2 separate regions of the Homo sapiens genome follow, and region 1 is linked to region 2. Evidence: fine-mapped expression QTL. A gene starts in region 2. The other region holds a variant in brackets. All regions are shown on one strand. Distances are from middle to middle. Region 1 overlaps ANKRD36C (ankyrin repeat domain 36C). Region 2 holds the start of ADRA2B (adrenoceptor alpha 2B).

The links. PIP is the estimated chance that this variant, and not a neighbour inherited with it, causes the effect. A credible set is the group of variants that fine-mapping cannot tell apart.
Region 1: its variant is the best candidate, but not a certain one, in a credible set for the expression of ADRA2B in transverse colon (GTEx, PIP 0.68).

What each region holds. Positions count from the first base shown.
Region 1 is chr2:95,895,191-95,899,579 of GRCh38, forward strand. ANKRD36C (ankyrin repeat domain 36C) reads right to left here. Exons shown (of 88, transcript NM_001393982.1): 57 at 4,118-4,146; 58 at 3,955-4,027; 59 at 2,247-2,275; 60 at 2,080-2,152; 61 at 372-400; 62 at 209-281. Among named protein-coding and RNA genes, the nearest start is that of LINC00342, 70 kb to the left of the region's middle. The variant C/A (reference allele first, on the strand shown) is at 1,935.
Region 2 is chr2:96,114,294-96,118,682 of GRCh38, forward strand. It overlaps ADRA2B (adrenoceptor alpha 2B), which reads right to left and starts at 2,278. Exons shown (of 1, transcript NM_000682.7): 1 at 1-2,278. The coding sequence starts at 1,856. The coding sequence ends at 504. RefSeq lists silencers at 2,178-2,267, 2,368-2,527, 2,538-2,997, 3,038-3,107.

The DNA.
Region 1 (4,389 bases), 220 kb before region 2:
TGCAATGTGGGGATGTGTATAATCTTACAGCAAAGATCATGTTCCAGACCAGCAGCATCAGCATAACCCAAGAACTTATTAGAAATGAAGAATCTCAGGCCTACTGAATCAGAATGTGCAGTTTCGACCAGCCCCCCACTGATTTATTCGGGGAAGAGAACTTCTTATCTGGACTGAACATGACATTAAATGTGTTTTGCAAAGTTACCTGTCCTAGATGTTTCTCCATCCTTTCTTTCTCTGGTTATATTTGAAAAAGAATCTTTCTCATCACTTGTAGCCTGAATGGAATTTGAAACAAAATAATAAATAAGGTATGTTTCATAGGCTTTACATTTACTAGCTCACAATATAAATGAGAGTTTTATTACCTTCAAGGCTGCTTTTTTCCGAGAAGACACTGAAAAGCAAAAGGGATACATAATCACTCACATGTAAATATGATAAAGTTATCCATACATTCACACAGTGTTAGCATCAACCTCTGTCCTCCTGCCTGTATTAGTGGAGGCTTTCATGGCTTCTACTTTGTCTCAGGGGACCAGAAGGTGACAGAAATACACTGAAAAAAGGGAACACAGGCTCCATGAAATATACCCTTACAATTTCAAACATGGTATGATTTGTCATGTGTCGAAACCCAAAATAAAACCGTGTCAATATCAATGTGGATATGATGAGCGATGAGGACAAATGTGATCTGAAAACAGAGGAGCAACTCATACACGTGAGAATCAATGTCAAAACAGGTGCTACATGATCCCACATGTCTTTCATGCAACAAATCAAAAGGATTTACACCATTATACTAAAAACATTCATCATGCTCTTTAACTTGCCCAATAACTGAGAAGGCACACAATTACGATGACACTCCAGCTGAACGTACACTTAACATATCTTCAGTGGAAGTGTCCTGAATTGATCACCTTGGATATCTGTTTGCTGATACCTAGTAGATAATATTCATTATCTCTCACACCCATGTAGTGTAATAATTTGCCTAAGTTTCATGTATCCACTAGTTTAGGCTTCCGAAAGTTTCTTCATCCACTCTTGGCACCAAAGGATAATATATTAGCCTCAATAAAAATATCATCAATTGTCAACTTTGACATACTTCTACAAAGTCAAATGGCTACAAGCATTAGATATTAATCAGTTTTTCATTCAGAAATCACTGCAATATTCATTGAAAATGACCATTTTAGGAGTTAGTTAGAATTCAACATCATTCTTGTGTCTAAAATACTCTTGTTGGGAGTATCGTGTTATTCTCTAAAGAAGTCTCATTAAATAGCTATTTTATCCAAGAGGTAGCTCCTTGAACAAGGAAGCAAATTTATTCATATTCAAGATTATCTCATTTTTATAACTAAAATCAACAAAACATGTATCTCTGATGCCTCCTAGTAACCAAGAGGAGTAATGAGTCAGTGTGGTGGTGTATTCCAATTATACCATTGTTTCCTGCTTCCAGTAGTTCCTGGAGCAGCCAAAATAAAATATTTGTTATGAAAATATTCCAAATGCATCTGAAGTGAGTTCACTCAGGTTTTCTCAGCAGAAACCCCAAAATTATATAAATGACTTCCTCTTTTCACACCTTCCTGCCTCACAATCCATCTCCCTTAGGAAAATAGTTGCTACACCAGGGGTCTCCTTAGTTCTCCTAACAGTGTCTACGGGTTGTTACAACAAGCTTTCTGTCTTTTCTTGGCAGTACGATCTGAAGTGTGTAAATTCTATACTTCCTCTCTTTCTCCTTCCACCCTTACTGAAAACAAGCTGGAGAATTAAAGCAAAATTATGTTGTTCCCCAGAGCCCCTTATGCCTTGAACTGCTCTCCATATTTCTTCTTCCCAATTTCAATATGGGGAAGTGTATAATCTTACGGCGAAGATCACGTTCCAGACCAGCAGCATCATCATCA[C/A]CCACAAACTTATTTGAAATGAAGAATCTCAGGACTGCTGAATCAGAATGTGCAGCTTCAACGAGCCCCCCGCTGATTTATTCACGGAAGAGAATTTCTTATCTATCTGGACTGAACATGACATTAAATCTCTTTTCAAAATTACCTCTCCTAGTTTTTTCTCCATGCTTTTTTCCTCTGGCTATATTCAAAAGAGAATCTTTCTCATCTCTTGTAGCCTGAATGGAATTTGAAATGAAATAATAAATTAATAAAGTATGTTTCATAGACTATACATTTACTAGTTCACAATATAAATGACAGTTTCATTACCTTCAAGCCTGGTGGTTGCTCAGAAGACACTGAAAAGTAAAAGGGATTCATAATCACTCATATGTAAAAATGACAAAATTATCCACATATTCATGCAGTGTTAGCATCAACCTCCGTCCTCCTGCCTGTATTAGCGTAGGCTTTGATGGCTTCTACTTTGTGTCTGGGGACTAGAACATGACAGAAATATGCTGAGAAAAGGGAATACAGGCTCCACGAAATATAGTCTTAGAATTTCAAACATGGTATGATTTGTCATATGCCAAAAACTAAAATAAAACCATGTCAATATCAACGTGGATATGCCGAGTGATGAGGTCAAAGTGATCTAAAATCAGAGGAGCAACACATACACCTGAGAATCAATGTCAAAGCAGGTGCTACATGATCCCACTTACCTTTCATGCAACAAATTAAAAGGATTTACACCATTATAATACAAACATTCATCGTGCTCTTTAACTTGCCCAATAACTGAGAAGGCACACAATTACGACGACAATTCAGTTGAACGTACACTTCACATCACTTCAGTGGAAGTGTGCTAAATTAATCACCTTGGATATCTGTTTGCTGATACCTAGTAGATAATATTCATTATCTCTCTCAACCATATGGTGTAATAATCTGCCTAAGTTTCTTGTATCCACTAGTTTAGCCTTCCGAAAGTTTCTTCATCCAGTCGTGGCAACAAAGGATAATATATTAGCCTCAATAAAAATATCATCAATTATCAATTTTGACATACATATACAAAGTAAAACTGCTGCAAGCATTAGATATTGATCAGTTTTTCATTCAGAAATCAGTGCAATATTCATTGAAAATGACCATTTTAGGAGTTAATTAGAATCCAGCATAATTTTTGTTTCTAAAATAGCCTTGTTGGGAGTATCATGTTGTTCTCTAAAGAAGTTTCATGAAATAGCTATTGTATCCAAGAGGTAGCTCCTTGAACAAGGAAGCCAATGTATTCAGATTCAACTTTGTCTCATTTCTGTAACTAAAATCAACAAAACATGTATCTCTGATGCCTAATAGTAACAAAGAGGAGTAATGAGTCAGTGTGTGTGTTTTTATGCCAATTCTAGGATTGTTTCCTTCTTCCAGCAGTTCCTGCAGCAGCCAAAATCAAGTATTTTTTATTAAAATATTCCAAATGCATCTGAAGTGAGTTCACTCAGGTTTCCTCAGCGGAAACCCCAAAATTATATAAATGACTGCCTCTTTTCACACCTTCCTGCCTCACAATCCGTCATCCTTGGGAAAATGATTGCTACACCAGGGGCCTCCTTAGTTCTCCTACAGTGTATATGGGTTATTACAACAAGTTTTCTGTCTGTTCTTAGCAGTACGATGTGACATCTGTAAAATCGATACTTCCTCTCTTTCTCCTTCCACCCTTACTGAGAACAAGCTGGAGAATTAAAGCAAAACTATGCTGTTCCCCAGAGCCCCTTATGTCTTCAACTGCTCTCCATATATCTTCTTCCCAACTTCAATGTGGGGAACTGTATAATCTTACAGCCAAGGTCATGTTCCAGACCAGCAGCATCAGCATCACCCAAGAACTTACTACAAATGAAGAACCTCCAGCCTGCTGAATCAGGAAGTGCAGCTTCGACGAGCCCCCCGCTGATTTATTTGGGGAAGGGGACTTCTTATCTATCTGGACTGAACATGACATTAAATCTGTTTTCAAAATTACCTGTTCTAGATTTTTCTCCATCCTTTTTTTCTCTGGCTATATTCAAAACAGAATCTTCCTCGTCACTTGTAGCCTGAATGGAATTGGAAATGAAATAATAAATAAAATATGTTTCATAGACCATACATTAACTCGTTCACAATATAAATGAGAGTTTCATTACCTTCAAGGCTGGTGGTTTCTGAGAAGACACTGAAAAGCAAAAGGGATTCATAATCACTCATATGTAAATATGACAAAGATATCCATACATTCATGCAGAGTTAGCATCATACTCTGTCCTCCTGCGTGTATTAGCGCAGGCTTTGATGGCTTCTACTTTGTGTCTGGGGACTAGAACATGACAGAAATACACTGAGAAAAGGGAATACAGGCTCCATGAAATATGCCCTTGCAATTTCAAACATGGTACGATTTCTCATATGTCAAAAACTA
Region 2 (4,389 bases):
GTGATCAGTCTTCGTTTCTTCCTCCCCCTCAGCAGCAGGCCCCACTGGGAAAAGTGGAAGGCTGGCTCCGTGCTCTTTGTGGGTGGGGGGGAGATGAAAAAGAAACGAAAACACCACAAGCAAGTGACCTGCCAGGAACACAAGGTCCTCAAGAAAGGGAAGCCCAGACATTGGTCTGGAGAGCATGGGGCTCTGGGAAGAAAGTGCTCTCTCTTCTCCTGGTCTTGGCTATGTTCCAGAGGATTTGAACCACCTCCATCGGCCTGTGCTCAGGGAGAGGGTGGAGAAGGGGTCCCCCACAGCTAAGCCGGCAAGGGGAAGCTTCACTGGGACCCTTGCTAGCAGCCCCCCTGCCCACCCCTCCCAAGGGGTTCCTAAGATGAGGCCTACAGGATCTGGGCAGGGAGCAGAAAGCCCAGGGGAGGCAGCCACACACAGCAGGGCAAGAAGCAGGGTGACCCCGGCGCCACCGCACCAACCCCACAGGGGCAGCGCAGGCGGGCTCACCAGGCCGTCTGGGTCCACGGGCGGCACAGGATCCTCCGGAAGGCACGGCGGAAGTCCTGGTTGAAGATGGTGTAGATAACAGGGTTCAGTGAGCTGTTGCAGTAGCCGATCCAGAAGAAGAACTGGAAGAGGCCATGGGGCACCTTGCAGTGCTTCGGGCAGATGGCTCCCAGGCTGTAGCTGAAGAAGAAGGGGAACCAGCAGAGCACAAAAACGCCAATGACCACAGCCAGCACGAAGGTGAAGCGCTTCTCCCGGGTCAGCTGCGCCCGTCGACGCCACCACTGCCCACCTATAGCACCCACGCCCCTGCCCAGGAGCACCTGGCCACGTAGGGTGGCCAGCACCCGGGAGCCCTGTGGCTGCTGCAGCGGGGGGCTGCAAGCTGAGGCCGGAGACACTGGCACTGCCTGGGGTTCACACTCTTCCTCCTCCTCCTCCTCCTCTTCCTCCTCTTCAGCTTCATCCTCTGGAGATGCCCCACAAACACCCTCCTTCTGGCCCTGGCCTGAGTTGGGAAGGGCAGCCCAACTGGGTGGCAAGGCCCGGGTCCCAGTATCTTCAGGGGTCTCCCCCTCCTCCTTCTCCCCAGTGGACTTCGAGTGTCCGTTGACCTCTCTGGCAGAAGCCACAGAGGCCAGGGCTGGCAGTTTGGCTGAGGCCAAAGCCCCACCATGGTCGGGTCGGGGCTGCTTGGACTCACCCTGCCCAGGCCCCCCCTTGGCCCTGGGACCTCTGCGGTTGCTGCGTTTGGCGATCAGGTAGATGCGCAGGTAGACAAGGATCATGATGAGGCAAGGAGCAAAGAAAGATCCGATGCTGGAGGCCAGGATGTACCAGGCCTCCTGGTTGAGCTTGCACTGGGGGCGCCCGCGCGGCTGGGGGCCCTGGTCGCCCTTGTAGATGAGGGGCGGCAGCGAGATGACGGCGGCGATGAGCCACACAGTGAGGATGATGCACTTGATGCGGCGCGGGGTGCGCTTGGAGTTGTACTCCAGCGCGCGGCTCACGGCCCAGTAGCGGTCCAGGCTGATGGCGCACAGGTGCACGATGGACGAGGTGCAGAAGAGCACGTCGAGCGCCAGGTACACCTCGCACCACGTGCGCCGGAAGTACCAGTAGCCCAGCAGCTCGTTGGCCAGCGAGAAAGGGATGATGAGCGTGGCCACCAGGATGTCGGCGGCGGCCAGCGACACCAGGAACAGGTTCTGAGGGGCGCGCAGCGAGCGGCTGGTCAACACAGCCAGGATGACCAGAGCGTTGCCGAAGATGGTAAAGAGAATGAGGAAGGTGATGGCCGCCGCTATGGCCGCTGTGGCCTGCACGGAGTAGGGGTCCTGGTGGTCCATGACGGGGCGGGAGGTGGGCAGAGGGAGCGCTGCCCGCCCAGTGCGCACCGTGGACGACAGCGCTGCCCGGCTCGGCTAGACAAGAGCGTCGCCCCTCGGGCGGCGCCGAGGGCGCTGGAGCCCCATGGCCTGGACGAGCGGGGCCTAGGAGGTCGGGAACACCCAGGACCAGCAGCCGCCCTCCTACATCCTCCTCCACCGGTGCCCGGGGTCCCTGCCGTCCGCCCCAGAGAAGTTTCCCAAGTTGTCCCGCCGCCGTCCCCGTCCCGCCCGGGACCGGAGAAAGTCGCGCCCTCCCGCCACGCGGATGCCGTACGCTCTGGGGGCGCGGGCCGGGCTGGGCCGGTTCTTAAAGGAGGCGCGGAGGACCTTGCGCCCGCTCAGCTCGCAGGCTTTCGCCCCAGCCGCGCCTGCAGGGGAGTGGGGAGCGGGGAGAGCGGCTGGAGGAAGGCGGAGACTGGAGGCGGGCGCGGGAGCGGGCGGGAGGCGGGGCGGTGGGCGGACCGAGGTGGGCTGAAGGTGCGCTTCGCGGGAGGCGTGAGCCCGGGACTTCCCGCGCCCGGACCCCGCCCAGCGCCTCTACCTGCCTTCCTCCCGGCGGCCGCGCCTCGGGAGAGCGGAGGGGCCCGGCGGCCGGGGTCTCCGGCCCCCAGGCAGGACGCGCGCAGCTGTGGAGGGGTCGGTGGGTGCCGGGAGCCGGGACGCGGAGCTAGCGCGCGGGCCGGCACCGGGACGGGACACTTCTCCCGGGGGAACCGGGCTGGGCCCGGCGCCGGTGCGCCCTGCTCTGCCTTCCGCCGCTCGGGAGCCCGCAGGGAGGGCAGGGCGGGCGTGGGGCTGGGGCGCCGGGTCGCAATACACCACAACCCCGCCCGGCTCGGCCGTGGAGACGCCCTGCGGAGAGGTGGGGGAGCGGGGAGCGGGGAGCCGGTCCCGACCCTTTCCCAGGCGCTGCCCCTCGCGGACCAGCTCCGTCGGGCCAGCGCCGCGCGAGGAGGGCGCGTCCCGGCCTGCGAGCGCCCCCTGCTGCCGCCCGCGGGCCCAGCCCGTCAGCGGCAGCCCGGGTCCCGGAGCCAGCGCTCGCAGCCTGGGTCTTAGGACTTCGGCTTCTTGTGTCTCCGCAGCTGCCTCAGTTTCCTCCATTAAGGGCAAAGGAGGTAACAGGGAAACTGGCTTGGACTCGAATCACAGCATCAACTGCGATTCAGCCAAGGGTTTGTACGGGGCACAGGGCGAGCTGCCGCCCCTTGACTAATGCGAAGGGGAGGTCCCTTCCTTGCCGTGGGGGAGTAAAGGGTGGGGACTTTGTCACACAGCTCCGAGAAAAAGCAGGTCTCAGGGGCAGCCGTGAAGAGAGGAGCGTCCCTCCGCTTCTGTAGTGACCCCGGGGGAAGGGGTTGACCCTCCCTCCCTGCTGCGGTCCTGCCCCACATACACACTGAAGCCCTTCTGGGGGTGACAGTGGAAAGAGGGTTGGGGTAAAAAGAAACTTCAGACTAAGGCCCCCCACTCGCCTTCAAAGCGCTATGAGCAACTGTTCTCCCTCAGGGCCCCAACTCACTCTCCCTGCCACACCGCCACCAGCACCAGCCTGGGCAGCCCTGAGGGCATGTTTCCCCGGTTCTGGAGCCCCTAATGTCATAAGCCCCGCCTCGAGCCAGGCCTCTTATTCACAGCCCACGACTCTGCAAGGCATCCTCTGTATAAATAAGCACCAATCCACCTCTGACAGTGGGGCTCCCCCAGGCCCCGTCCAACCTGCTGGACCTCCTCTCCTCCCTGCTCCCTCCATGGGAGCAGAGCACGTGGCCTCTCAGTGCCCACGGACAATGTCTAGCGCCTCCCCAGGCTCAGGTGGGAGGTGCCCCGTCTCAGGTACCCAGACCAGCACCCCCAGCCACGGGGGTGTGTTGGGAGTAGGTGCCTCCTTGATCCCCCCATCCCTGTCATTCTGCCAGACTCCCCAGCTTCTGGTGAGGTGCAAGTGCCCACAGCCCATGGGGTGGATGCTGCCAGGGCTGGGTTCGGACAGGGCAATCAGCCTCCTTCCCACCCCCAACCCTAGGCTTCAGCTCAAAACCGACCACTCTGCTAGACACAGTTTCCTGGATGTGTCTTTCCCACCCTCTGGGCTGGGCAGGGCCTGGGCGCCGCCTGGGCATACATAACCAGTGATGGAGAGATGCCAGTAGCTCTTTCCCTGAGGAAGGACAGAGGGTGGCCATGAGAGCCTGGGAGCAGCTACTTAGGCAGGTGCCTGCCTATCCAGGGGCTCCCAAGGCCTTCACAGTCTGGGCCTGCTAGAGGCCCACATGGGCATCGGGAGGAACCGCCTTTCCACTGTCTCCAACCACACTTGGGCTGGGGGCCAGTGAGCAGCTCCCCAGACTCTGCAGCCAGCATCAGCCTTTGTCTTCTGACCCATCTTCCTTCAAGGGATGCTGCAGGAGCTGAGACTGGGTTGCCCGTGTGCCCTCCCCACCCTGCAAGTCCCCACTGAGGACGCTTACCTGGGCCTTCCTAGAAGTGACAA